7 separate regions of the Homo sapiens genome follow, and all the other regions are reported to be linked to region 1. Evidence: microRNA targets listed by miRTarBase, many of them from high-throughput screens and not tested one by one. Region 1 holds a microRNA gene; each other region holds the end of a gene's coding sequence.
What was found. Region 1 holds the annotated microRNA hsa-miR-548az-5p (CAAAAGUGAUUGUGGUUUUUGC, at 1,489-1,510, opposite strand). A microRNA usually pairs through its seed, bases 2 to 8, with sites in the 3' UTR of a target mRNA and lowers its output. Matches are read on the target gene's strand: a 7mer-m8 pairs with bases 2 to 8, a 7mer-A1 pairs with bases 2 to 7 and ends in A, and an 8mer does both.

Region 2: miRTarBase lists FZD8 as a target of hsa-miR-548az-5p. The part of its 3' UTR that is shown has no 7-base or 8-base seed match.
Region 3: the mRNA of GOLGA2 is a reported target of hsa-miR-548az-5p. Seed matches in the 3' UTR shown: 7mer-m8 at 2,890-2,896.
Region 4: the mRNA of PANX1 is a reported target of hsa-miR-548az-5p. The part of its 3' UTR that is shown has no 7-base or 8-base seed match.
Region 5: the mRNA of MCMBP is a reported target of hsa-miR-548az-5p. Seed matches in the 3' UTR shown: 7mer-A1 at 973-979 and 7mer-A1 at 2,276-2,282.
Region 6: miRTarBase lists SMG1 as a target of hsa-miR-548az-5p. Seed matches in the 3' UTR shown: 8mer at 1,427-1,434, 7mer-A1 at 1,885-1,891, 7mer-A1 at 3,010-3,016 and 7mer-m8 at 3,212-3,218.
Region 7: the mRNA of GNPTAB is a reported target of hsa-miR-548az-5p. Seed matches in the 3' UTR shown: 7mer-A1 at 642-648 and 7mer-m8 at 828-834.

The regions. Positions count from the first base shown.
Region 1 is chr8:119,322,622-119,326,699 of GRCh38, reverse strand. It overlaps MIR548AZ (microRNA 548az), which reads right to left and starts at 1,529; the gene lies at 1,435-1,529.
Region 2 is chr10:35,635,693-35,639,770 of GRCh38, forward strand. FZD8 (frizzled class receptor 8) reads right to left here. Exons shown (of 1, transcript NM_031866.3): 1 at 2,555-4,078. The coding sequence ends at 3,653. Among named protein-coding and RNA genes, the nearest start is that of MIR4683, 3.5 kb to the right of the region's middle. RefSeq lists enhancers at 762-2,622, 1,803-2,425, 3,112-3,973.
Region 3 is chr9:128,253,864-128,257,863 of GRCh38, forward strand. GOLGA2 (golgin A2) reads right to left here. Exons shown (of 27, transcript NM_001366244.2): 24 at 3,927-4,000; 25 at 3,738-3,844; 26 at 3,506-3,662; 27 at 1,966-3,418. The coding sequence ends at 3,204. It overlaps DNM1 (dynamin 1), which reads left to right. Exons shown (of 22, transcript NM_004408.4): 22 at 791-1,381. The coding sequence ends at 851. Among named protein-coding and RNA genes, the nearest start is that of MIR3154, 11 kb to the left of the region's middle. RefSeq lists enhancers at 1,188-1,692, 1,693-2,195.
Region 4 is chr11:94,180,585-94,184,662 of GRCh38, forward strand. It overlaps PANX1 (pannexin 1), which reads left to right. Exons shown (of 5, transcript NM_015368.4): 5 at 206-1,384. The coding sequence ends at 285. Among named protein-coding and RNA genes, the nearest start is that of PANX1, 54 kb to the left of the region's middle.
Region 5 is chr10:119,828,201-119,832,278 of GRCh38, reverse strand. MCMBP (minichromosome maintenance complex binding protein) reads left to right here. Exons shown (of 16, transcript NM_001256378.2): 15 at 179-267; 16 at 679-2,839. The coding sequence ends at 805. It overlaps INPP5F (inositol polyphosphate-5-phosphatase F), which reads right to left. Exons shown (of 20, transcript NM_014937.4): 20 at 3,132-4,078. Among named protein-coding and RNA genes, the nearest start is that of MCMBP, 43 kb to the left of the region's middle.
Region 6 is chr16:18,806,203-18,810,280 of GRCh38, reverse strand. It overlaps SMG1 (SMG1 nonsense mediated mRNA decay associated PI3K related kinase), which reads left to right. Exons shown (of 63, transcript NM_015092.5): 63 at 635-4,078. The coding sequence ends at 712. Among named protein-coding and RNA genes, the nearest start is that of ARL6IP1, 6.7 kb to the right of the region's middle.
Region 7 is chr12:101,743,508-101,747,585 of GRCh38, reverse strand. It overlaps GNPTAB (N-acetylglucosamine-1-phosphate transferase subunits alpha and beta), which reads left to right. Exons shown (of 21, transcript NM_024312.5): 21 at 345-2,087. The coding sequence ends at 422. It overlaps LOC124902997 (a long non-coding RNA gene), which reads right to left and starts at 3,596. Exons shown (of 2, transcript XR_007063424.1): 1 at 3,557-3,596; 2 at 2,619-2,798. RefSeq lists enhancers at 3,509-3,618, 3,739-3,828.

The sequences.
Region 1 (4,078 bases):
TTTCATATCAGTTACCAGAAAGGAAGTGACCTCTCTTACCCAAGGCCAATCCCTCCTAGGGCTCTGCCTTATTTATCCTCTCTCAATCTTGTGTTGTTAGTTATCTTTGCTCTCTCTCCTGTACCTATAACCACACCATAAGGCATTTTTATAATCCCAAATTCCTTATTCTTTTGGCATGCATCGTGTCATGAATTCAGAGGGATTTGTTTCTTGCTACACTAATCTTCACAGAAAACCTTCCTTGAGTAGAATTAACTAGCACATCAGCTAGGCATATGGACTTTTTCTGGGCTTCCTTTTATTTTTCCCCCAGATGATTTTCATTAACACATTTCAGGCTACTGTAGATTGCTTAATATGTTAATTAAACACATTAACTTTCTTGTCAAGAATCTTGCTTTTTGATTACTTACTGTTGTGCAAGCATGCTACATTGCAGACCCTTCTAAAAAAGCCCATGAAACACTGTTGGGTAGGGTCCACGAAATTACACATTTTAGCTGAATGTCTAGCCAAGGGTTAAAGTCAATATTCAGCCTAAGTTGAAGTTGAAGATGAATATCACTTCATGGCATGAACTTCTGGGAAAAAAGAATAAATATTAAAATTTCCACATTTTATTTTAATTTTGTCATTAAAAATGCTCAAAGTCAAAGTGTATAATTTGACATTACTGTACAACACAATGATTTCCCAGCCTTCTCAGTGGAGGTCAATACACTAAACCTGTGTAATCCCAATACAGTAGACTCTCACTTTCAATTTAGATCAAAGGAGGAGCAAGCTATTCTGTTTTGAGCTCTGCCATTGTAAATATTGATGGTGAAATGGACCCTAAGATAAGATTTTCTGGGAAGAATTGCAACATATAAAGCATATATGGATATTAATTTTTACTCCAAGTCAATTTTGAATATATTTGAAAGTGAATGTTTAGGTAGTAATACTACACTTTGAATGATATGCAATCCTTCTAACTAATATTTTTATGGTGATAATAATTTTGGTTGTCTCATCCTTGATCATCAGCAAGTTTAGAGTTCCGGAGATGATAAGTAAGTCTTTCACTATTCTTCCAAAGAGCAAGCTTGAATCCCAAAACAAATTTTGTAAAATTTCCACGTCAAATCAAATTCTGGTACATTTGTGTTGTGGGTAATTTCTTATTGCATAGTATCCATACTCTCAACACCTTCAATATCATTTACTTTGTTGATCAGCATATGCAGTACCAAAGGAACTTAAAGTTGCCAAAGCACACAGGCCGAGTCTGTCTTCCATATTCTTATTATTGGTTAGTTGTTTTATATGAATGATTATAAGATGGCAGTTTTGATAGACCAGTCCCATGCTACACCACTGAAAGTGCTCTTGCCAGAGTCACCAATAATTTCTTTAACTGATCCTCAACTGACTTGATCTCTGTGCAGCAAATTTATTAGGTTGGTGCAAAAGTGATTGCAGTTTTTGCCATTAAAAGTAACAGCAAAAACCACAATCACTTTTGCACCAACCTAATACAATCTTGAATATTCCCTACTTTGTGAAATATTTTTCCCTATTATTATTACATTTTTTAAACTTTCTCTAATTACTCTGCTTTTTCCCAGTTTGTTTTGAATTTCCCTGCTTTCTGCTAATCTCTTGTATATGAATTTTCTTCCAGATTCTAGCCTAGATAGAATTTTTATTTTTTTGCTTCACGTAGCCTCTCTTTGAGGATTATATTTTTCATACTCACAAATTCAATTATATAATTTCAATCATGATTCTCAAATCTATATCTTCAGCCAAGATATTTCTCCAGAGCTTCAGATCTAATTTGTTAGTCACCTAGTAGATATCACCACATAAAATCCTATAAATATCCCCCTTTAGTGTCCTTTTTATCAGTGAAATTACCACCATCTACCTAATTATAAAAGCCAAATACCCAATAATTTTCCATGACTTGCCCTTTTCTCATTTACTTTTTATATGTAATCAGTTATCAAGCCTTGTGTTTCTATTTGATAAAATGGCTCTCCTTTTATTTTTTGCTTACCTTCATCTTTTGTTATTATCATAGTTCAGGCAATCATCTTTTGTCTTTAGTCTCAAAACACCTTCCTTTCTGGTCTTCCGTATTTTGAATTCATTACTTCCAAAAATGTTTCTATTGGAGCCAGAGGGATGGTTCCAAAAATCCAGTCAGATCATAGCATTATCCTGATTAAATATCATCCCCCATTACATTTAGAATAATACTTTGGGGGTTATTTATAAACTGCCTTCATTTAGCCACTCAATCCCATCTTTTTTCCTTCTCTCTTGTTTTCTCTGCTCCAAACATTCTGAAATTTTCTTTCTTTCTCTGAATAAATCATGATTATTCTTACCTCTAGGCCTTTGCACAAATAAAAGTTTTGATGAAGAAGTTTCAAGTTAATGGTTTGTGAATGTAAGACAATTCTATTTTTTTTTTCAATAACTGTTGCCAGGTTTGCTTTGTTGAATTCCTTCCCTGCTGGGCAACAAGAAACAGTGATATCTCAGTTTGACAAATAACTTTTTATTTACTTCTGATTAAAAATAGTCTTAATTTGGGGTAGTAAAACTTTCCTTTTTTAAAAGCTTGTGCAGGGCTTCTGTATAGTATACGTATTGAACAGGGTTTATGTGTCGATATGGATAGGGTTGGATGTGTTGTTGGCTTTCTCCCTCTCTTTATCTTTTTCCCAGTGCCTGTTGTATTGATGATGATGTAAAGGGGTGTGTGCATGTTGTGGGTGGGGGGGTGTGAATGTGTGTACGTGTGTGCATGTGTGGATGTCTATGTAGTATGAAGGGGGAGATGGTAGAGGAGTGGGATGTCTTTGCTTATGCTGTATTAGTGATAGTGAGGTGTTATGGTTGAATCACCTAATACACACTGTTTCCTTATGTCTGGTGTTGTTACTTGGTCTACACTGAGAGAAGTCAGATGCCAGGTTTAGAGTTATAATAAGATTGATCTGATTTTTGGAAATATCCTTCTGGCTAAGTTGAAACCCATTAGGAGTAATCAATTAGAAATATAGGCAGTCTTCTAAGGCTGACAAAAACAATAAATTGGGGAAGGACTCCGTATTCAATAAATGGTGCTAGGATAACTGTCTAATCATATGCAGAAGAATGAAACTGGACCCTTTCATCATATACACAAATCAGCTACAAATGGGTTAAAGATTTTAATGTAAGACCTCAAACTATAAAAATCCCAGAAGAAAACCTAGGGAATACCCTCTTGACATCAGCCTTGGCAAAGAATTTATGGCCAAGTCCCCAAAAGCAATTGCAGCAAAAACAAAAATTGTTAAGTGGGACCTAATTAAACTGAAGAGCTCTCCACAGAAAAAGAAACCATCAACTGAGTAAACAGACAACATATAGAATGGGAGATAATATTCCCAAGCCATGCATCTGACAAAGGTCTAATATCCAGTCTATAAGGAATTTAAACAAATCAACAAGCAAAAACCAAATAACCCTATTTAAAAATAGACAAAGAACGTGAACAGACACTTCTCAATAGAAGACAAGTGGCCAACAAACATGAAAAAATGCTCACCATCACTAATCATGAGAGAAATACAAAGCAAAACCATGAGATACCATCTCACACCAGTCAGAACAGCTATCATTAAAAAGTCAAAAAACAGCATGTGCTGATGAGGCTGTGGAGAAAAGGTTACACTTAGACACAGTTAGTGGGAATGTAAGTTAGTTTAGCCACTGTGGAAAGCAGTTTGGTGATTTCTCGAAGAACTTAGAACTACTATTTGACCCAGTAATCCTATTACTGGGTATATACTCTTAAGGAATACAGGTCATTCTACCAAAAAGAGACATGCACTCATGTGTTCACCATACTATTCACAATAGCAAAGACATGGAATCAACCTAGGTGCCCATGAGTGGTGGGCTGGATAAAGAAAATATATGTATATCACATGTGATATATATATATATCACATATATATCACATTTGATATATATATATATATCACATATATATATGATATATATATCTCATGGAATACTACACAGCAATAAA
Region 2 (4,078 bases), not on the chromosome of region 1:
ATGGCAGTATAGTATCAAATGTGGAAAGCGGATAGACACTTGCACTGATTTGCTTTTTATGTCTCAACAGAACGTTTGCACCTACACTTTAAATTGCATCCCGTGCTCTGCAACTGCTCCTGGTTTTCTTTTGGCAAGACAATCTCACTCTCTTTGCCCAAACTCTGAAGTATTACAGGCACCAGCAATGCGGTCAGTGCAGGTTAAGAAACTGTAATGTGCCATGGTTTACTCCTTAAACTTTCTTATCAACTTTTTTCCCTTCTGTTTCATGGTACTTTCAAATTGCATTTATTATAAAGCAAATAGAAAGTGTTTCACATAACTTCTCCCACAAGCAATTTTAATGAGCTTTGGCTTTAGTAATGGTTTTAATCATGTTAGACTTGATCTTCTAGCCACACAGCAACCACATCAACCCCTCTCCCAATTTGACAAGATTTTGAAAAACTAACACTTGTTTTATGTAATTAAAGACACACCTGTATAGCACACAGAGGTGTTCATTTGTCTAATGCAATTGGCCAGATAGAGACTCGTTTCTTTCTTCCACCCTAAAATCAATTTTGGGGTTTTGTTCCCTTAGTAGATACCATCTGAGTACTGGCAAATATGCAACTCAAGTTTTAGCTTTAAAGGCAAAGAACCAGCACTTATGTCTTAATACCATCTCTAAAATCAGTCTCTAGTGATGACAGATGCAGGTCTTTTTATTGAGAACTGTCCTCAGAATTTAAATTGGGTTTTTTGTCAAATAAGTTCGCTTAAACACACATACATCTTGAGTTATCGAATATAGCATTTTATAATGATATATTGAAGAATAAGGTAAAAAGCTTCAAAGCTGGACATTTTCCCACTGTGCTATATAGTTGAAAATGCGTCAATAATGACAATACTGCTACATGAGAAAGCCAACATGCTAACTTGTGTCTTGTAGCTTTCTCTCCATCCTTCATATGTGGTAAAGACTCTGGGATCTGCTCTCAAAATTCTACTTTATAACTGAATATAAAAAGTTTATGGCTGGCATATGTATACTATACATGAGTCAACACGTGGGTTAGATGTAGGCCACTGATAGGTACCTAAGTTACAAAATAATTCTTTAATGAGTAAAACTACTGGAGAGGTGAACACTTTTACAGTGTCTCTGGCTTTAAAAAATAAGATTGGCATGATAGCTAAAGCAGGGGTTCTAATTGCATAACTTAATTAACACCGAGACTTACTCTGAAAAGGATCTGCAAAATGTTACTACTATGGAGATCCTATGCGAAGCCTCTTACATGAGAAAGATCGGCCAAGAAAGTAGCGTCCACTCTATTAAAATTTTTTTTAGCCACTAAAGATTCCTATTAGGTAAAGTAAGGAGAACAAACATTTTAGCAGGATGTGCAGAACAAAGCCCCTCCCATCCCACAATGATTGATGCCCCATCATTAGCAGGGTAGCTGCCCATTTCTTATCTTGATTGACAGGTTAATAAGGGACCTGGGGCTATCTTTTCAGTATTAACACACAATCTTACCAATTACTTTTAAATTATTGCTAATCTGTCAGAAAATAACAAGCATAAGGAATAAAAATATCCGCGAAACAGAAACGTCTGCTGAAGCAGCTTTTACTTCCGGTGCCTTAAAAGGTTCAGTTAGAAAACTTGCTAGAATTTAGTCAATAGAATTTAGGCACCGGCAATTTTTTTAAAGAAAAACTTGTAGTTTATAATAGTTCATTGGTTCAATTAGGAGCGAAAAAGAAGGGAGTTTTGTAATGCAATTGTCCAGCAAAGGAAAACGCTTTAAATTGGGGGATTATGTGCGCAGACCACCTGTGGGGCATTCAGAGCCCTTTTCTATAAAGCTTCAACCCATGCCTAGCTGCCTGCAGGCTGGCTAACAATGCCGGGAAAAGCTGTTTAAAAGGCTGAGCACTTGTGCCTCCGGTCTTCACTAACTGTTACAAGTCTTCCTCTCTCGCGCTCTCTCTCCTTTTTAAAGTAAAAGTCCCACATCCCTTTAATGGAAGAACTTTAAGGCTCCGCGGTGGCCAATTGGTCTGCACTAAGAGGAGATAGGCAGCAGGGAAAGAAACTTCAGACTATACAGCACATTTGCAGAGGAGAAAAGATCAAAGTTTTTCAAACTCAAAAGACCAAGTTCCCTACAGATTAACCCTATTCATTTAGCTCCTCTTAAAGGAATGATGTGCTGAGCCACTGGGCAGACAGGTAAAAAGTTCAACAATTGCCGAAGCATTCTTCTGCTAATTCAACAGCCTTCTGCTCAAATAAATTAGCTTAGTCTTGACAGAGGAACAATAGCTTTTTCTCTAGGAAAAGCAGCACATTTGGTATACACAAGCACTGAAGGTTATTAAGATGTTAACCCGTTAGTTTAATCCATTGAAGAGCGCCTGCTCCCCTACCAGATTGTCAAGTGACTTCTACTGTAAAGGGTGAGCTATGGTTTAAAACATTAACCTCTACACCTCAGCAATGCGTTCCCTCCCTGGAACACCAGGTGCTTTCAAAATCACGGACTCCAGAAATGAATGCAGGGTTTTGAAACCTTTAGTGATACCATGCAGGATAAATAACAAGGCCTAAGGGGAATTACTGCCTTGCAGAAGTTCCATTTACATCCACTAAAGTGAGAGTTGTTATCCATGGATCAGAAAAGAGCTCCCATGAAAAACACCGTCTTTGGGGAAGGTGCAAAAACTCAATTTTGATTTCAGTTCAACAATGATATTTACTTGGCTAACAACTTAAGAACTAGAGTTTAACAAGTAATTTTCTCCATGCCTAAGGTCAGTGTACAGAATGACAAGCCAGAAAATGTCCATTTTCCCCATGCGTCCTTAGCAAGCACTTTAAAGGTGACAGCTCAGAAGAGGCGGGGGAGAGGGCAATGGTTAAATCATTTATCAAAAGTCATTTTATTGACAAAATAGAATACTTATATCTGTTCTTACAGGGGTAAGCCTCTAAACTTTTTACAAAAAAATGTACACACTATATCTTTGGATATATACATATTTTACACTTTTTTTTTTACAATTTAACAAATAATTATATAAATACATCCTCTAATGTAAGAAACCCGTATTTACGTGGGGTGTATAATTAAGACATTTCTTGTTTGTTTACTTAAGGCATTTGCCTGGTCATTAAGAATACCCAAACCGTGCAATCCCATCAGGTGGCGGTCACCCCTCCTCCAGGGTAAGTCAGGGGTGGGAGTTTACGTAGGAAGAGTCGAGGGAGAAAAAGAGGTTCTCCCAGGTGAAATCTGTGTATCTGACTGCAAACCCAGCCAAGTGCAGCCAGGGAGGGCTCCAAATCTCGGGTTCTGGAAACGCCGCAGAGTCCACCCTCCTCAGCCAACAGAAATTAACGCGTGGCGGGAGGAGCTCCCCGCACATCAATGGAGGAAAAGGGGCTGGGTCTGGGAGGCTTCAATGCCAGGTACTTTGTTCTAAGTGAGTCATTTAAGTCCCAGCTAATGGATACCATTAAGAGTTCATTATCATGCTAATAGCAATCAACACTGTGAAGGGGTGGGAACCTCAGCCCATCAAGTGTCCCTTCGCTGCACTTGGCTCTCCTCGCCCCCCTCCCCACCCCTCCTGGGCGCCCCCTCCCCTCCGCTCAGACCTGGGACAATGGCATCTGCTTTGGATAAGACACGGAGCTCGCCGTGCCCGACCGCCACGTCAGGCCAGTGCTGACGTCGCTGTAGAGGGAGCCCCCGCCGCCGCCCGGCCCCCCGCCGCCGCCGGGTCCCCCGCCGCCGCCGCCCCCCGGCCCGCCGCCACCCCCCGCGGCCGTGGCGCCCGCGCCCCCGCCCACCGCGGCGCCCTTGCTGGCCCAGCAGCAGCGGGTGCACAGGGAGCGCCAGGACTCCAGCGTCTTGCCGGACCAGACCCACACGCCCGAGGTGATGCCCACCACTAGGCACATGAAGTACTTGAGCATGAAGACGGCGTAGTCGGGCCTGCGTGCCTGGTCGGGCTGCAGGTCCCGCAGGCACGGGCAGTTGTGCGTGGCCTCCCAGCGCGGGCGGTTGTGCTGCTC
Region 3 (4,000 bases), not on the chromosome of region 1:
CGCACCTTGGCCTGTTGCTCCTAGGGTCACTTGTGCCATTCAGCCAAGGGGACGACCGTGCCTGCTGGCCCAGCTGAGCTCCGCCCAGTGAGCCCACCCCCCATTCTCCTGCCACTGACTCTCGCTCTTCTGCTTTTCCCAGCAGGAAGGGCCCAGCCTCACCTACGAGACCTGCAGCCCCCCGACCAGCTGAGGCTCCCCTCTTAGACTTATAAGTCTATGGCCACTGGCATCCGGCTGCCTGCCCTCCCTGCCTCCCCCAGGGTCCCTTCAGAGGGTCCTGGGTTTTCTGAACACCCAGAGGGGCCTCCGGCGCTCCCTCCAGCCATCCCTTTTAGTTTCACCCTCCTGGTTCAAGCAGTGTTCTTTCTCTATCAGGCCTGGTGGCTGTTGCATGGGGCTCCCCAAGGCAAGGGGTGGCCCCAGGCCAGTGGGTTGGAAGACAGGGTGACCAGAGAAGAGGGAAGCCCGAGGGGGCCGAGCATCAGCCTGAATTGCGGGTGCCCTGCCTGGGTGCCGTGTGAGAGGCCAGCGTGTGTGGGGTGGGGAGGGCCGCCACAGCCCCCAGGCGCTATCTGTGAAGCTACGGCTCCTCCCTCCATCTTCCTCCCCTTTCCCTTCCAGCCCCTTTTCCAGGAACCTTGCCACACCCACACCTGCAGCCTCCCCTCCCCGGCCCTCCCACCACTGCTGCGGCGCGGCCGGCCCCGGCCGTGTGCTGCGCTTGCCTTACCAGCTCTCTCCTCGCTTTTCTCTCCCGTTTTCTCTCTGCTTTCTCTCCAACTGCCAGCCGATCGGGTCAGGCAAGTCCATCCCGTCCTGAGAGCCCCAGGCCCCCCTTCGACCTCTAAACAGATCCCTCCTCTTCTCGGAGACCTCCCTTTCCAAGCCTGCCTGGACGGCTGTTCTGTGACTTGACAGTGGCTCCCCCAGCCCCAAAGCCAGCCCCCTTCATCTGTGACTTAATCTGTTGTAGTGGTGAGCTGATACATTCAGGTGTGACCGTTGGTGAAAACTTGTGCCCCTTCTGTGGTATGCCCTTGCCCTGTTCTATAAATATCTATAAATACTCATATATATACACACCTACACATGGCCAACCGCCTCGCCTCTAGCGCTGGGAATCAGTCACTGTGCTATCCTTGTGGAGTCTTGTGGCCCAACTACCAGAGAACGCTGTCCCCCGACATCCCACTCCAAAGTGTGCCACCTCCAGTGAGCCTCCTTGTCATGCCCGGCCTGTGGACAGCCAGCCCCCGCCATCCCTCCCACCCCCTACCAAGCATGGGGGTGCTGTGCAGGCAGCCGTGTGGCCTGACAGTTTCTACCAGTCCTGCTGTCCCTCGGCTGAGAATAAAACCCATTTCTGGATGATGGGGAATGTCTCCTCTGCTGGTTGTGTTCTCTCTGGAGCTCAGGGGAGGGGAAGGGCTAAGCCATTACTAGGGTGCTGCTGGGGGTGGTGAAAAGACCACATCTTTTCCAAGGGACATTTTTCCTGGAAAGCCCCTGGAGCTTAGGGGGCTCTCATCCTGTGAAGCGGGCTCTGGCCACTAGGGGGCAGGGCCATTAACTCAGCCTGGAGGGCGCCGGCAGGGCGGCTGGCATTCTGGAGGGACAGACAGAACAGGCCACCAGGCTCAGGCAGGCGAGGGAGGCAGGGGGACAGAATGGAAGACACCTGGGCTGGATGGAAGTCAGTGCCCTTGGGTGCTGGCATCCTGTCTTCCTGGCCACCGCTAGATCAGGCTTCTGAGCCTGTTGGCCATCGGGGCCAAACTGTCCCCATAGGTACCATGGTAGTCCCCGTGTAATCCCCAAGATGTCACCAGGCAGCATACAGGTAACAAGCCTGGAAGGTCCCAACAGCCCAGCTGCACATGCTCAGACACTCTGGGGCTCCCTGTTCAGTGGCACAAACTCCAGGACCCAGTGAGAGAAACAGGAACACATCAGGCAGAGCAGTATGGCTAAATCCATTTATTCCGAAATAAAAAGCAAAATAAACAGGAGTCGCATCACCAGGGCGCCACGACCCCATCCCCGCCTCCTTCCTCTGTCCTATGCTATCAATAAATAAGTTTCCCAGCCCCAAATAATTATTAGAACCTCCTCCCCATGTGCCAGCTCCAACCTCTGCTAGGTATGATACAGGGGGCGGCCCTACCCCTGGAATATACAAAATGTTACACAGATACAATATGTACACTGGGGAAGCAGGGCCACCCCAGCAGCCCGTGCCCTCGCCTGGTCTACAGTTAGCCCCACTGTCCTGCCTCAGCTGCCTCTCTGTGTAAGAAGATGGGAGCCCCCCTGAGGGAAAAATTGCTTTGGTGAGAGTAAGGAGGCCATGAGGCCTCTTCCAAAGAGGCCAATTATATGAGCCTCTGGCTATTAAATAACAATCATCATCATCCAGAAATTTAAGGAGTCAGCCCTGGCCAAGGTGGCTAAGGGTCTACACATTTGTCTCCCCCCATTAGACAGGGGTCTTATTTGCTACTGTAAGAGTAAAGGGATGACTGGGAAGGGGTGGCAGGCACATGATGGGGGCGGAGCCTCCGGCCCCACTTCTCCAGGCTTTGCTGACAGTGGCCTGCTTTTTAAAATTTTTATCCTGACTTTCTTTAATCCCATAACTTTTTTCATAATTTTTTTTTTTTTTGAGACAGAGTCTCACTCTGTCGCCCAGGCTGGAGTGCAATGGCGTGATCTCAGCCCACTGCAACCTCCACCTCCCAGGTTCAAGCGATTCTCCTGCCTCAGCCTCCCGAGTAGCTGGGATTACAGGCACGTGCCACCATGCCTGGCTAATTTTTGTATTTTTAGTAGAGACACAGTTTCACCATGTTGACCAGGCTGGTCTTGAACTCCCAACCTCAGCCTCCCAAAAGTGCTGGGATTACAGGCGTGAGCCACTGCACCTGGCCTTTTTTCATAACTTTTATACCATAAGTTACCCATAACCTTTTTTATCCCATAACTTTTTTTAATCCCATAACTTTTAATTTTTTTTTAATTTAGTGGCCAGCTTTTAGATGACAGTGATCTTCACCTCATCTGCACCTGTCTACCCCCGTTAGACAGGGGTCTATGCTTGCTACTGTAAGGGTAAAGGGTTGACTGAGAAGGGATGGTAGGGATATGGTGGGGGCAGGGTATCCAGCCCCACTTCTTCAGGCTTTGCTGACAGTAGCCGGCTTTTAGATGACAGTGATCTTCACCTCATCATTCTCGTCAGCCCGGTAAAAAAAAGGAATGCAGGGGTTGCTGCCCAAGCCTGGGCGCTCCCGGGGGTTCTGCATCTCACGAAGCAGCTGCATGATCTGCTGTGCAGTGGGGTTGTCACGGGGAGAACCCTCCCTGGCCTCTCCTTGGGCAGGCTCCACACTGCCGGCGAGGCTCACCTCGCAAAGATCTTTGGAGAGAGAGAGGCAGGGCTCTGAGTGCCACGCGAGCCCTCCCTTACTCCTGCCTGCCCACCCCTCCCGAGGGCTCTACTCACCACCCTGCTGGTTGGCAGCCCCAAGTTCCTGGGGGGCTGGGGCCCCTGAAGTGGGCTCATCAGCAGGGTTCTGGGCAGCTGCCAGGAATCTGCCATGCCACTCGTTGCGGTCGCCCACAAGCCGTAAGACCAGCTCCTGCAGCTCCAGCAGCTTCACCTGGAGGGAGGGGTGCTAAGCTGCCATGCCCATGCCCGTGCCCACCTCCACCCCCAGAGATGTTCCACACCCTACCTTCATCTCCTCCTTGTCTTGGGCCAGCCTGCTGATGTACTCCTCCTTCTCCCGGTGCCGCTCCTTCAGCACTGCCCTCTGGCTCTGGTACAGTGCAATGTACTCTCCTGCGGGAGGACAGGGCTCAGATGCTGGGTTCCCTCCGACCGCTGTGCAGCTCCTCCTGCCGTGCCCTGGCCTCCCACTCACCAATGGTGTCTGTCTCTCCAGAAAGCTGGATGCAGCGATGTTCCAGTTCCTCTACCCTCTCCTTCAGGTCTGCC
Region 4 (4,078 bases), not on the chromosome of region 1:
TTCCTTTCTACCTCTGATCTCCTTCTCTGTTACTCTCTGACTTTCTCTTTCAAAGGGGACTAAAAGTTTATTGATTCTTTTAGTTAGGCCAAGAAGCAAAACATGGTATAGACTGTGAGAGGAATTTTTGGCAGAAGAAAAATTGATTAGTATTGGTAATTCCTGCTATGTTTCTGTCATAAATATTTGTTTTCAATTTTGACAGGTATGAACATAGACAGTGAAACTAAAGCAAATAATGGAGAGAAGAATGCCCGACAGAGACTTCTGGATTCTTCTTGCTGATGATTTTTTTCCTTGAGCTGTAAATCTGTGACTTCTGCGACATGGGATTTAATTTGGCTAAAGCACCCCTGTTGGTTTCACAGCTGGTTTGCAATAAATGGTTCTTGGTGGAGATACTGAGCATGTCTTATTGAGTCCCTAATGGAAATGGTGATCAACAAAAGGTTATGGAAGAATGGTTTATGAACTTCCCATAGGAAGCACCTGAGAGATAGTAAACTGCAGCAAGTAACTATGTGTAAGTCCTCATCAAATGAAAAGCAGAAAGACAAGAACAATTAGTCAAGAGCAGTAGCCCTGTCAGAGCCTCGGAGCAATACCTTTCTGTACCCGTGGTGAGACAAGACCCAGAGCTACTGGAAAACAAGCACTTTGGAAGATTTGTTTTGTTTTCATGGAATAATAATATGTCAGGGTATAATTTAACGTGAGTTTCTTATGTGCCCTTAAAGACTGTTAGACAAGAAAAGCATTCACTGGCTAATAATCCATAGGTCGACCTATGTCCTAAGTTAGGTGTAAGGTCCGATGCCTTGGCCCACACTCGAGCTCTCTTTACATTGTTAGTTGTCAACCTTGGCTGATGGAAATCCCGTAACCACTATTTGTTGCACTGTGCCTTGAAGGGCAGCAGGCCCAAGTGCTGCTCTGACTGAAAACTGAGTTAACAAGATGAAATCTAAAGGATATTCACAGTGACTTCAATTCAGGAAGAATGCTTCCAAAAGAGCCCAGTGGGGAAATCTGACATCACAGAAGACATTAATTCAGTCACTTTCAAAGAGTTTGTCTACAGGCGGTTTCTCTGTTATCAAAGGCATTTGAAATAGGATTTTACTTAAACAATAATGGAACACAGGAGTATTTAAAGTGAAGAACACTTTGCCTGAATGTGATCAGGGCACATAAGTGACATTGGCATGCTTCATATGGCGTGCTTGGAGCCAGAAAAACTTAGCGGTTTATTTTGTTTATATTTAAGCACAGCTTTAAAAAATTCATTATCGTTTATTCAGTGTCCGAATTGAGGCCATTTGGGAAGAAAATTCTAGCACTGGTGGAGAATTATAGAATAAAGATTATAAATGGTTGGATAAGACAAATGTAAGCTTATTTCATAAACATTTAAAGCTGATTCAGAACATGTTAAAAACTGTTCCCAATTCCAACTATGTAAATAGATCCTATGTTCACATTTTACACACACACACAAAAATCTTTAACATCTGTGGAACTTCCCAGTTTTAGTCTTAGAAAGTTAGCATGTTGCATAAGTTCAGTAATCCTCAGGAACCTCCAAGTTTACTTTTAGCTCTTACGGACAGTTGTTTACATAATCTAATTACTGTTTTCTGAAGAACGGAAATTATATAAGCTGCTGTCTGCCTTTTGGAATATTCAGAAAAGCAGATTTTATTTGTACTTCTGTGATGTTTTCTGAAATGGAAAGCTGATGATAAATATCAAAGTAGCAATCAGTGCGTTAAATTATTCTGTTACATGATATTTATTACTGTTGAATTATTCTGTGACTTAGAAATGGCAGTAACCTAAATAATGGAATTTGCAAAATTATTATATTGCCGTATCTGAGATGTTCCATCACAAGTTTCTACACTGGTTTCTTTTGAAAATTTAAAAAGATTTACGAGATACATTTTCTAGGATATGATTTTTTTTTTACAAAAAGCTTCATCTTCTGTAGACTATCCTTAATTTCTATTTTGAAACGGTAAAAATTGATATTTTAGGACACCAGGAAGTCTCCAAGCCATTCCCACTCTCTGAACTCCAGTAGGGTCTGTGATGTCCCAGGCACCAGTACCAAGTTGGATGTGCAGATATGCATAGGCAGGTCCCATCCTTGAGGACTTCAGAGTCCAGTAAAAGGCAGCAGAAACATGGGCTGGTGCCTAAGAGGAGAAAGCGTAGCCACAGTAAAGGCTATGCCAGAAAACTCCTAGCAAATGCTCTGTGTTCTTGGGAGAGGGCACATTGTTTTTGTTTTCTCTCCTATAGTTCCTGTAACTGCTGGTTTTGAGAATATAGTAATCATTTTTCCCAGAGGCAGATGACCACCTTAAGGTTCTTTAGCTGCAAATCCTCTAGGTTGAAGTTTGTGTGAAATAGTCACAGTGATTTTGAATAGTAAGGAATCCAGTTGCCTTTTGAACCTTCCCTCACAGGGATGAGAGAACAAGCCTGTGGAGGTTGTGGAGCTACTGGTAAACAACTGTCAGGGCCCCAGAAGGCTGATGTGGAGGCCTGGGGATACATTTCATCTAATAAAAGTATTACTAGGTATCAGTATCAGTAATAAAAGTATTATAATAAAGTATCAGTAATAAAAGTATTATAATAAAAAGTATTATTAGGACAGGTAAACTCATCCATCTACTGTGAGCTGCTGGCTTGGAGAACGACTTTTGAGGAGCCAGTTTCCTGAGGAGAAATGCTTTTATAAAGCACTCATTGCTTTGTAAAAGGAGACAAAACTGATCCTAAATGACCACTCCAGGGTTGCTGATTTTGTTTCTGGCTCATGTCTGCCTAGTAAACCACCAGCAAGCTGCTGAACCAGGCTGGAAACAACATTGTTGCAACTGGGAGGGACATAGAGTACTGTGAAAGCAGCGTTCCAACACATCTTCACTTTTACAAAGGGATAGGCAGAGACTTCCAACATAGAGGTTCTTAAACTTCGAGGGGTTACAATCCCCTTGCAAATATTTTTATAGCTATGGACCCTCTCCTCAGATCTACAGCCAACATTTTCAGTGCACCTTAGGAGGTCATTTTAGTCCACGCCTCTGAAAAAGCTGCACTCCAACGGCTGAAGAGCAAGCCATACGGCCGAGAATGGGGCTCCCTTTGCCTTCATGAAAGCTACTTCCCCCAACACTAAGACTCAGCTGTACGTTTGCTTAGCTCAGTCACATTTACATTCTTCTGGGTGAACTGTACCTTTTGAGTACCTGCCTTCATTTTCTAGAATCAGACCTAACAAGGTCAGTAGAAGCCTGGGCAGCAGCAGGCCTGGAAAGACGAGGCAGCCAGCATGAACTGCTGTTCTCTCCCTGACCACAAGGCGTCGTCTTCCTCCAGGGTCAAGTAATTGTTCTTGTTCCGCCTCACAGGAATGTGGGGAGGAAGGACGTAACACTATAAAATGCTGCGTCCTACCTTAAACTTGTACTGTGAGAAAGCTGGAAACTTCCACCTGTACAGTGGGTCTGGTTTGCATGTTTAGTTTCATTTGTGGGAACTGCTTGTCCAAGAGTGAGCTCAGGTCAGGGCAGTTTGTGCCTATGAGAATTAGCTCAGCTATCAGGCAGGTTTTTAGACACCTTTTTAAAATGTGCTCGTGTTTGGTTTGTTTTGCTTACTGTCAGTCCTGGGTCAATCAAAGGTTTGTAAGGGTGAGAATTTTTATGCACTGCTATATCGCAAGTGCTTAAAACAGAGACTGGCCCAGATGAGGCATTCTTCAAATGTTTGTTGAAATGAATGGACAAACTCTTAGGATAAATCCTAATTTGTTGGCAACTGTTATTTGATTTTAGAAGGCAAACTGATTTTATTTTAGAGAGGGGAAGGGGAGGGGAGGCTCATTAGCCTCTTGGTAGAAAGAGGACTATTTCTGCAAATGAATAGGTTTCCACCTTAAGTAGTGACAGTCCTTAACTTCTTATTATGGAGTGAGTCTTGACCGCTTTCCAAGTTCAATAGAAGTTCAAGATTGCCTCTCAGTGATTAGGGAAATTGAAGCTTTTAAAGCTCCTGGTCTCAGTAA
Region 5 (4,078 bases), not on the chromosome of region 1:
TTTCATTATTTTATTTTCATCAGCAGCATTATGTATGTATATGCTTTGGTACTTTCACCCATATTGCCTCCTTTGTCTAAGAGGCTGACATGCACCTTACTACATCAGTCAAGGAACCATGTTAATTTTCTTTTCCTTACAAAAATGCACATCATTTACATTTACTCTTTTGATAAAGGCAGTTGAAGATGACTTTGTGGAAATGCGGAAGAACGACCCTCAGAGCATCACTGCTGATGATCTTCACCAGCTGCTCGTGGTGGCTCGGTAAGTGGCGCACGTCCATTATTGCTGTTTCGGTAAGCTTGTGTATATGTCTTCTGAGTTATTCAGCAGTAACTGAGGCAGAATTCTAAAAACGGAAATGAACTTTTCCTTTTAAAAACGCTGTATGAAAGGGCTCATTGAGGGGGAATCGAGTTTGGCTGGTGATCTCTTCAGTGGAACAGGCATGCTGCTTGTTCTCTAAGCTTCAAAGAGTGAGCCACTTTCCAATTCTGACTCTTCAACGATTTCTTTTTAGAAGCCTAACTTGGCTGTTGACTTGTGTGTAACTACCATACGGTCTTGTCTCCTAACGTGCTCTGTGTTTTCACAAAGTATTCCTAGGTCTTAAAAAAAATTTAAAACTTACTATCCCAGCTCTAGACTTAAATTTGTTTCTGTGTTTCAAACCAGGTGTCTGTCTCTCAGTGCTGGTCAGACAACGCTGTCAAGAGAACGATGGCTGAGAGCAAAGCAGCTAGAGTCTTTAAGAAGAACGAGGCTTCAGCAGCAAAAATGTGTGAATGGAAATGAACTTTAAAGATGTAATACCTATGAAGAGTAATGGGCAAACTGTAGCCACATAATTGTAAAATTCAGATATTCATTTATACCACATTGTTTTATAGGTAATTTCTATCACAAACCAGTGACATTTCCTGAAATCAAGCCTGGTAACACCTGATGTTTATATGATATTCAGTAAGGACTTTTACCTTACTGATTTCATGGAGCTTTTGAAGTTTGTTTTATAATAATTATATAAATTAGTAATGATGTAAAAAAAGTATTTGATATTAAAAGTTTAATATTGATAATGTTGCTGATTGTACCATTTCCTTAGCTTCAGCTGAGTCATAGGCCAGACTGTTGAAATGCTGAAATGAAGAAGGTTGTTGCAGTTTCAAAGTCAGAGGAATCGTGCTTCGGATTTCTTATGTTTTCTAGTTCTCTGTTTTTCCAGTTCACAGTGGGTTGGGGTGCATTCAGTAGTCCATCTTTGGGGAACGGAGGCGTACTTGCCATTGATTCACATGACTACATGAAATTCTGTACTGTCATTTCCCAGATGTTTGGCCACAGAAACTTTTTCCCACTTAACATTTGTTAACAGCCTGCAAAACTAAACTTGTACATGGCAGTGGTTCCCAGACTTTTGTATTTTATGGACCGGTAGTAATATTTCCAAAAATCTGGGGTACTATAAGGTTGCCAATTTACCTTGCCAAGTAATCCGAATAAATCACTGTATTATCACCATTTTTTTCATAAAAGGAAAGGACAATCTATCTCTGAATAAGAGGAGTCCTTTAAACGGAATGAATGTGGCTTTTGGGGGCAAAAGAAACCAAGACACTACATTGTCTTTATTTTCTCCTATCCCAGTGCATTTGAGAACCATGCATAAGGGAATGCTGTGCTACAAAGCTGTGCCCAAATATGAAAACAAAATAGGAAACTTAAAAAGCAATACCCCCTTTAGAAAGTTTTTATTTTCTTAAATGTCATTGAGTTGCTTTGATTCTATTGGATTTTTGGCATTTTTTATGGGATCATCAGTTGGTTCCAAGTATGTTAGATCAGCTAACATCTGCTACTCCAGTAACAGCCTCGTACAACTGCAGGTAGGTTTTCTCCAGACCAATTAGTTTTAATAGAGCAAACTAACAACAGACTGTAGTAGCATGGTTATGGCAACCAGAATCTTCAGAAAGGTTAGGACATTACTTTTTAAGCTGTCAGTGGTATCAAATAACTTACCTAGTTGGAGGCAGATAAAGGATCCCTTACGTTTTTTCCTATAAGGCCTAAATTGAAATTGTTAACCAAGGAAACAGGGTCAGCCTTGAAAAATCAAGGAATTCATTGTACCTAATAACTGAAGTAAAAATAACTAGTTGTTCAACTTTTCCTAAACTCAAATCTATTTTTATAAACAAATGTAAATAATGTTTATATTAGAGTTGAACTGGTTTTCATTTTTATAACTGGTAGACTAGACCTTCCTTAAACTTTTAGAAATAAAATGAAGGCTTCACTGGATTTGTGAGGATAAAATACATTTTCTTTAATTGTCCTAGAGCAAAGTACATTAGTCACCATGTGTTTTTTGTGCCAATGTAAATTGTAATTTACCAAAGAAAAATACATACATTGCTTGGTCTTGCAGAAAAGTTCCCTTGAAAGAACCTTTCCAATAAATAAAACGTCCCAAATTAGCAGTACCTTGGGCTGTTTTTCATGAGTAAGAAGATTCACCATCCCATGTGATCTGTGTGGAAAAAGACCATGTCCTCTTGGTGGAAGACATGAGAGAGCTGAACTGAAGTGGAGGAGGTGGTGCAAGAGGGACCTTCCTGCTCAAGGCCCGCCCAGGCAGCGGAATGGAGTGCAGTGCTTGGCTGCAGAAACCCTTTGTCCCTCACCTATATATACACGGACAGTCAAGTTTGTTGCTCTAACGTAAGGCACAGCGTTAATCCTGTATGGCCAGGAAACTGAGTAGACTCCTGTGTAACCCTGTTTGGAACTTTGCCTTCTTAAAATGATTTTTCAAAGATCTCTTTCGAACTAATTTCTGTAGAGTTTAAACGTGTATTTTATCACCTAATGTTGGGTTGTATTTTCTCCCATGTTGGGAACCCTTAATATTTTCAGGACCCGGAAGAAAAGTTGGTAGAAGCAAGCATTCAGTTTTGAATGTTTGGATTTAAAGTATAGTTTCTGATCCATTTCCCTTTTTACATCATGAGTATATTTCAAAGGAGTAACATACTGGCAACAGCTAGACCAAGTGTTCAGTTATAGCAAATCTGCCGTTTACAAATTCTTTAATCTGTTATGCAAGGAATTCTCATACCCATTTGTCACTTTAAATTACAATGGTACTTTATTTTAATAATCACAAGATTTAACACGTAAAAAAAAAAGATAGCACTAATAAATAACAAAAGTGGAATGCTTATCAAAGTAACGACATAATGTTCAGTTGAGAATCAGTCACTTCAACAGAGTAAAGCTCTAAAGACACCAGACGAACCAATACTTGTTGGAATATGCCATACAACTTTCTTACTGTGGGGATTACAGGGGCAGCCCTGGTTCTGTGTGGTCAGAGTTATAGTCAGACAGATTCAGCACAATTGTGTTTCAGACTAAATTGTTTTTGAGACACGGTCTTGCTCTGTCCCCCAGGCTGGAGGTCAGTGGCACGATCACAGCTCACTGCAGCCTCAATCTCATGGGCTCAAGCAATCCTCCTGCGTAGCTAGAAACACAGGCATGCACCACTATGCCCAGCTAATTTTTGTATTTTTTTGTAGAGACAGATGTTTCCCAGGCTGGTCTCAAAACTCCTGGCCTCCCAAAGTGTTGGGATTATAGGTGTGAGCCACTGCACTAGGCCCAGACTAAATTTTGAAGTTGTGGATCATCTACATAAGATGTCGAGGATGCCCCTCCTGGAATAAATTAAAACCTGACTGACTTCTAGAATTTCCAGTAGCCAATATGGGTGTTCTTACATTCCTGAAAACAGCAAAATGAAACCTAATAGGTGCTGGTATTCACCTCTGATGTATCAGGTTTACTGTGTGACAAGTCTTAATGCTCCTAGGTTTACATTGTATAGGCAGCAGAGTATTTTTAATGTGTTCAAGTAGAATACGGGGAAAATTAGGATCAAATGAGAATTCATTTCTCTAGTGTCAATAACCCTCAACTCCTCAGGGAACAGTTAAGCCATCAAAACTAAAATAGCTTTATATTCAAATGCTTCAGTAACATGTTAAAGTCACTAAAAACTAAATGTGTA
Region 6 (4,078 bases), not on the chromosome of region 1:
AGTGATGTTTCTTTCTCAGTATTTTACATCAAGAGACACATGTCAGTTTGTGCCATCTTTGGTGGTGATAAGCTAGATCATTTGGTCAAGAGAGGTATCCTCTTGATGTCTTCATTATAAATGTACATTTTTTTCCTGTGGGATAAAAATTAAGAGACTGAATATCCTGTTCTTCCATGGTTTGGCATCCGTAATTCAATTTTAACATCAGCAAGGAATTTTTTTTTTCTTTTAAACACTATTATATTCTTGTATAGGACCTAGACTTGAACTCTTCTTGGGCAAGAATTTTTTTTTTTTTAAGAAACCGTTTTGTCAAGTTTGTCAAAAACCATGAGAGATTTTCTGAGTTTGGGATATTTTTACTTAAGAAACGTTCTGGTAGGTTAATGGATTGTGTGCTTTTCATATCTTTATAACTGTCTTAGCTCTCTTTTTAAAGTATACTTGGTTATTGTGCTTTTTATTCTGATAGTTATTACATTTTATATGAAAATTAAGGGGCTTACAGGAGCAGGGTAAGTATAGAGTCCTTTGCACTTAACTTTTGGCATAATTTGTCTGCTGATTGTAATTCAGCAGACAATTGAAAAGCTTTAAATGACTTTACATACTATCCTGCCTATTTTTACAGGTTGACTATGTCATTAAGGAAGCAACTAATCTAGATAACTTGGCTCAGCTGTATGAAGGTTGGACAGCCTGGGTGTGAATGGCAAGACAGTAGATGAGTCTGGTTAAGCGAGGTCAGACATCCACCAGAATCAACTCAGCCTCAGGCATCCAAAGCCACACCACAGTCGGTGGTGATGCAACTGGGGGCTTACTCTGAGGAAACCTAGGAAATCTCGGTGCACTAGGAAGTGAATCCCGCAGGACAGCTGCACTCAGGGATACGCCCAACACCATGGCCTGCAACCCCAGGGTCAAGGGTGAAGGAAAGCAAGCTCACCGCCTGAACACGGAGATTGTCTTTCTGCCACAGAACAGCAGCAGACGTGTCGGGAGGTTAGCTGCGGAAAGAAATCGGGATGCCGCGGAGCACAGAGTGATTTGGAACTCCATTCCACCTGACCCTGTGTGTACAATCCAGGAAAAAAACAAACCCCACTCAGAAACAGAGAAAACTGGGGTCGCGAAGAAATCACAGCCAAGGAAGATTTGATGCATTCAGATTCTCGTGTAACACTTGTTGCTTGGCAACAGTACTGGTTGGGTTGACCAGTAAGTAGAAAAAGGCTAAAGGCTATGCGATATGAATTTCAGAAATGGACTGAAAATGGAGAGCTATGTAACAGATACACTACAGTAGAAGAACTTACTTCTGAAATGAAGGGAAAAAAACCACCCCATCGTTCCCTACTCCTCCCCACCACTTACCCGTTCCCCCTTTACCTAATCTAGTAGATTAGCCATCTTTCAAATTCACTTTTATTTCAGTCCTTATATTTCATATACTTCCGTCTCGATGCTGTTAACAACTTCTGATAACATGGAAAATTCAAGGATTGTTTAAAGGTCTGATGATCACACACAAAATGTAATTCCGGTTATTTAAGTCATTTCTGTGATTCTATCATGTACAGTTTCCAGAATTGTCACTGTGCATTCAAAAGTAATGAATCTAACAGACATTTGATTTAATGTACACTCCCTTTTGCTTATAGTGTGCATTTTTTTTGGAGGTCATTCAAATTTTCCCTCTTCTGTGATAGCTGTAGTTTCTTTCATAGAAAGTAGCTAATCCAGTGTAATCTTTTACCTTTTTAAAAACCAAGATAGAGTATCTATTAGAGTTTTACATTGTTGATGATAGATTAACAATAAAGTGATGTTCTGGTGGAGGTAGACTGAAATTTTTTTAATTCATGTTTTTCATTTGATACTTTTAATTTACACTTAGTAAATTAAAAGTTGTTTAATTTACTTGGCATTTTAGGACATGTACATGAAACAGTGAAAATGAGATCCACCAACATCTTTTATTAAGTTCAGTTATTAGTCTGTGAAGTGCTTTACTTTTTGCACAATTTTAATAGCTTGCTATTCAGTAATACATTATAGTGAATTCATGATCAAGGTTTCCTTAAATTTAGCATTGCATTTCAGTACTGACTGTGTAAGCTAAATTGCTGATCCAAAATAAAAACCCAGACTAGAATAGGGTTCTTAAAATCAAGTATCAATACAAAATAGAACACAATTAAAATCTTAATTGTTGGCTGGGCACAGTGGCTCACGCCTGTAATCCCAGCACTTTGGGAGGCCGAGGCGGGCGGATCATGAGGTTAGGAGAGCGAGACCATCCTGGCTAACACGGTGAAACCCCGTCTTTACTAAAAATACAAAAAAAATTAGCCGGGCGTGGTGGCGGGCGCCTGTAGTCCCAGCTACTCGGGAGGCTGAGGCAGGAGAATGGCGTGAACCCAGGAGGCGGAGCTTGCAGTGAGCCGAGATTGTGCCACTGCACTCCAGCCTGGGCAACAGAGCTAGACTCTGTGTCAAAAATAAATGACTAGATAAAAAAAAAAATTGTTTGAGTACATTTTCCCTGCATTTTAGAGATTAGGACAGTGGTCACTTTCTAGTTGCCGTCTTCACAGACAAACTTGAAAGGTATTAAGGAAAAAATTCCACATAGCTCTGGGCCTTTTTTGTATTCTGATTGCCACGTTAATCTGTAATCGTTAAGTACCCATGAAAGAATGTGTTTCAGTATCAGTGCTTTTTTGGTACTTTAACAAGTATTGTAGGCACGGTGGATTTTTTTGAAATACCCATGTGTCCAATAGCAAGTTAAGGAACCTAGCGCATCAAATTTTGTTTTCTTCATTCATTTGGAACCTTATTTTCGCAAAAAACCTAGCTGGAATAATAATGCCATATTGTATTTTGCACACTGCTTTATTTTCTAGAGGCTCTGGGAGCAAATTACATTCATCACATTACCTCTGCTCTCTCAAGATTAAAGTCTTTCAGCAACATTCTTTATTGTCATCATAAGGAAAAACTTTTATCGCAATGATAGTCAGTTCACATTAGTTTAGCACTATAGATAGTATTCAGAAATTGCTTTCTCTTTGGTAAAGAAGATAAATAGGTGAATTTTATTGCCTGTGTTTTCAGGCTTCAGAGGTACCTGGCACCTTACTCAAGCAAAAACAAAAAACAGCTTTACTTCAAAAGCATGTGCCTCTGGTAAATTATCCATCACTTTTGTTTTAAAGTGGTCCCTCCAAGAATAATGTGGCATACACAGTGGGTTTGGTTGTAAGGCAGATGTAATAGATGACTTCAAAAGCCTGCTCCTTACTGCACTCTGGACAAGGCCCTGGTCTGTATAGTTTGGCTTCCTCTGTTAAGTCATTCTACAAGGTGACTTGCCATTTGAACTTTCGTAAGAGACCTCAGCAGTTAGACTGAGAAAAGTTAGAGTGCTGTAGTTATGAAGTCATACATTTTTGATAAAATACCTGTGGAAAACCAGGGATCCTCTCCTGTTTCTCTCTCTTGCCTCCCCCTTTCCCTCCATTCCTCTGTCGCCTCCCCCTCTCCTCCACTTTCTTTAAGAATCAGGGGGTACAGAATAACCTACAAACAACCTCTTCAAAGTACCCTTGGAAATTGAAGTTCAATCTTAAGTTTTTTGCTGTCTTTAATTTACTAGAATTGCCTAATTTTTAGTTGATTTCTCTACAGAGCTTAGCTTGTGTAGTTATTTCTCTTTTACTGTTGCTTTGGTGTGTCTTGAAGTTTGATTGATTATTTTTGGTCATTGAGTTCTTAGTGTAGTTTGCTAGATGATTATTAAGATTCTTTTGTGTCTGACACTTGTGGTGAGTTGCTTTTGAAATCTGTTGAGATTTCCATGTGAGAACTGATAATCAGGCTCTTGATCTGCTTCCCTAAATTACTTTTTTAGAGCCCAAACCCCAGGTTTAGGGTGAGGGTTTGTAATACAAAGAAACACTTCCATCACTTCTGCCCTTAACCCTTGCCTCTATTACCTAAGCTTAGTAAGTAGTTTTCTTAATATTGTCCAATGTTTGGTGTTATCTGCATTGTTTTTTGTTTTTTT
Region 7 (4,078 bases), not on the chromosome of region 1:
AAGACTTGACAAATGGACATCTTGAAAATAAATATGCTTTGGTAATAGCTGTGTAAAAATCTGTAGTTGTAGGTCTTAGAAAAATGAAGCATGGGCCGAAATAATTTTAATCCTCTTGGGTCTCTTTGTGGGCACATATCTAGGCATACTGTCCCTACAAAGCTAAACAAAACTAATATTTGTTTTTGTTTTGGAAGAGGAATGATGGAGATTTGTTTGTTGTCTTTTTAATGTATAAGATTGTGGAAATGATTAAGGTCATATGGCTCTTAGAAAGTTTGATGCACTTATATTCTTTCATCAACGTGAGAATTAAAATGTATTTTCTGTCTTTCATCATTTAGTTAATTGCACTTAAGCGGAAGATATTTCCCAGAAGGAGGATACACAAAGAAGCTAGTCCCAATCGAATCAGAGTATAGAAGATCTTCATTTGAAAACCATCTACCTCAGCATTTACTGAGCATTTTAAAACTCAGCTTCACAGAGATGTCTTTGTGATGTGATGCTTAGCAGTTTGGCCCGAAGAAGGAAAATATCCAGTACCATGCTGTTTTGTGGCATGAATATAGCCCACTGACCAGGAATTATTTAACCAACCCACTGAAAACTTGTGTGTTGAGCAGCTCTGAACTGATTTTACTTTTAAAGAATTTGCTCATGGACCTGTCATCCTTTTTATAAAAAGGCTCACTGACAAGAGACAGCTGTTAATTTCCCACAGCAATCATTGCAGACTAACTTTATTAGGAGAAGCCTATGCCAGCTGGGAGTGATTGCTAAGAGGCTCCAGTCTTTGCATTCCAAAGCCTTTTGCTAAAGTTTTGCACTTTTTTTTTTTCATTTCCCATTTTTAAGTAGTTACTAAGTTAACTAGTTATTCTTGCTTCTGAGTATAACGAATTGGGATGTCTAAACCTATTTTTATAGATGTTATTTAAATAATGCAGCAATATCACCTCTTATTGACAATACCTAAATTATGAGTTTTATTAATATTTAAGACTGTAAATGGTCTTAAACCACTAACTACTGAAGAGCTCAATGATTGACATCTGAAATGCTTTGTAATTATTGACTTCAGCCCCTAAGAATGCTATGATTTCACGTGCAGGTCTAATTTCAAAGGGCTAGAGTTAGTACTACTTACCAGATGTAATTATGTTTTGGAAATGTACATATTCAAACAGAAGTGCCTCATTTTAGAAATGAGTAGTGCTGATGGCACTGGCACATTACAGTGGTGTCTTGTTTAATACTCATTGGTATATTCCAGTAGCTATCTCTCTCAGTTGGTTTTTGATAGAACAGAGGCCAGCAAACTTTCTTTGTAAAAGGCTGGTTAGTAAATTATTGCAGGCCACCTGTGTCTTTGTCATACATTCTTCTTGCTGTTGTTTAGTTTGTTTTTTTTCAAACAACCCTCTAAAAATGTAAAAACCATGTTTAGCTTGCAGCTGTACAAAAACTGCCCACCAGCCAGATGTGACCCTCAGGCCATCATTTGCCAATCACTGAGAATTAGTTTTTGTTGTTGTTGTTGTTGTTGTTTTTGAGACAGAGTCTCTCTCTGTTGCCCAGGCTGGAGTGCAGTGGCGCAATCTCAGCTCACTGCAACCTCCGCCTCCCGGGTTCAAGCAGTTCTGTCTCAGCCTTCTGAGTAGCTGGGACTACAGGTGCATGCCACCACACCCTGCTAATTTTTGTATTTTTAGTAGAGACGGGGGTTCCACCATATTGGTCAGGCTTATCTTGAACTCCTGACCTCAGGTGATCCACCTGCCTCTGCCTCCCAAAGTGCTGAGATTACAGGCATAAGCCAGTGCACCCAGCCGAGAATTAGTATTTTTATGTATGGTTAAACCTTGGCGTCTAGCCATATTTTATGTCATAATACAATGGATTTGTGAAGAGCAGATTCCATGAGTAACTCTGACAGGTATTTTAGATCATGATCTCAACAATATTCTTCCAAAATGGCATACATCTTTTGTACAAAGAACTTGAAATGTAAATACTGTGTTTGTGCTGTAAGAGTTGTGTATTTCAAAAACTGAAATCTCATAAAAAGTTAAATTTTTGTCTGACACTTTGATTTTTAAATCTTTGAGGATTGAGTTTACTGTTACTCAGATTCAGCAGTCACTTGAGTGCCTTTACTGTGTATCAGGTTCTGTGCTGAACATTACTAAAATTAAGTGGAAAGTAAGGAAAGATTAGTATTATACAGAAGAATGTTGCTTTATGGGGGGAAAATAGTTTCTAAATGGAATTTATCATATGGTAAAATTTAGGATATCTGGGTATCATTATAAAAGCTGAGATTTATTCTAGAAAAGTTAGAGAAATGAACATTTGTCTGTAATGACGATTTCTGTGGTTAGATGAATATAGTCCATACCTAATTAGGAGCTTGATAATGGGATGGATAATACAATCATAGGCTATTCATAGACTCATTCTAATGATTCTGTGATTCAGTAGAATCATTAGAACAGAGGAACCTCAGAAGTTGATGAGCAGTCAGATGGTCAGAACCATTTGTTCAAATCCTATAGAAAAGGTCACTCTGTGTTTTAGTTTTTTTGTGCTGCTGTAACAAAATACCTCAGACTGGGTAATTTACAAAGAACAGAAATTCATTTTCTTACAGTTCTGGAGGCCGAGAGTCCAAGATCAAGGGGCTAGCAGGTTTAGTTGTCTGGTGAGGGCTGCTTTCTGCTTTTAAGATGGCTTCTTGAATGCCGTGTCCTCACAGAGCAGAAGGGCAAGAAGGCACAAACTGCCTCTGTCAAGCCCTTTAATAAAGACATCTAATTGAATTGATGAGGGCTCTGTTCCCATGACTTATCACCCTCTGAAAGCCCCACCTCATAATACTTTTAAATTGCCAGTTAAGTTTCAACATGAATTTTGGACAGATAAAAATTCTGTGATACAAAAGAAGGAAGGCTGCTTCTCCTGCCTGATTCTCAAGGTGTTCCCTCCAGCTCCCAGGCCCTTCGGGCAGAGTTTCAAAACAACTGTCTGGACGAACCCTTGCTTTTTATCGGCAAGGACACCAAGGCCACGGGGATGACATGACTTGCTCAAGGTCTTACAACCAGTTAGAGGAAGAGGTAGGGTGGGAACCCGGGTTGTCCCTCTTTCCTGTCCCCACCAGCCCATGCTGCCTCCCCAGGACTGTGGCACATGTGGGTGAAGAGCACACTCTGCAGTCAGACTACGGGAGTTCAAGTCCTGGATCCTGGACACTGCTTGCCGTGATTTAGCTTTCTCTGCCAAAATGTGGGAGGCAATACTGGTAGCTACCACAGAGGCTTATGGTGATAATTAGAGGAAATGACATGTGCAACACACGCAGCCCAGTGCCTGGCAAATAGTCCTGCCTGCTAAATGTCAGTGGTGATGATGGTAATGATGAAAATTCGTGTTAAAGACTGTTGTCCAGGCCAGAGGTGAGGCTCCTAGTCTAGTCATTAGGGTGAGATGATTATATTGCTCTTAGCTAAAAAAGTGACACATTTTCTAATTACAAAGGATTTTTTTAACCTACCTTATGTCTTCAAAAGTGTTTTTTGTTTGTTTGTTTCTTTTGAGACGATCTCACTCTGTTGCCCCAGGCTGGAGAGCAGTGGCGTGATCTCAGCTGACTGCAGCGTCAACCTCACAGGCTCAAGCAGTCCTCTCACCTCAGCTTCCTGAGCAGCTGTGACCACAGATGTGCTCCACCACACCTGACTAATTTTGTTTATATTTTTGTAGAGACAGGGTCTTACTGTTATCCAGGCTGTCTTGAACTCCTGGGCTCAAGCAATACTCCTGCTTCGACCTTCCACGGTGCTGGGATTACAGGTGTGAGCCACTGTGCCTGGCAAAAGTGTTCATTTTGAAAATTATTTCTACATATACCAAGAAGTATACAAATAATAACAGATTAAGCATTTAAACTAAAGGGTAATCACTACTTACGTCAAAACATCTAAGGAAGAAACAGCACCAGTCCCACACAAATTCTTCCAGAGAGCAGAAAAAAGCAAAATACAGTATCATCCAACTCATCCCTTGAAACACAACC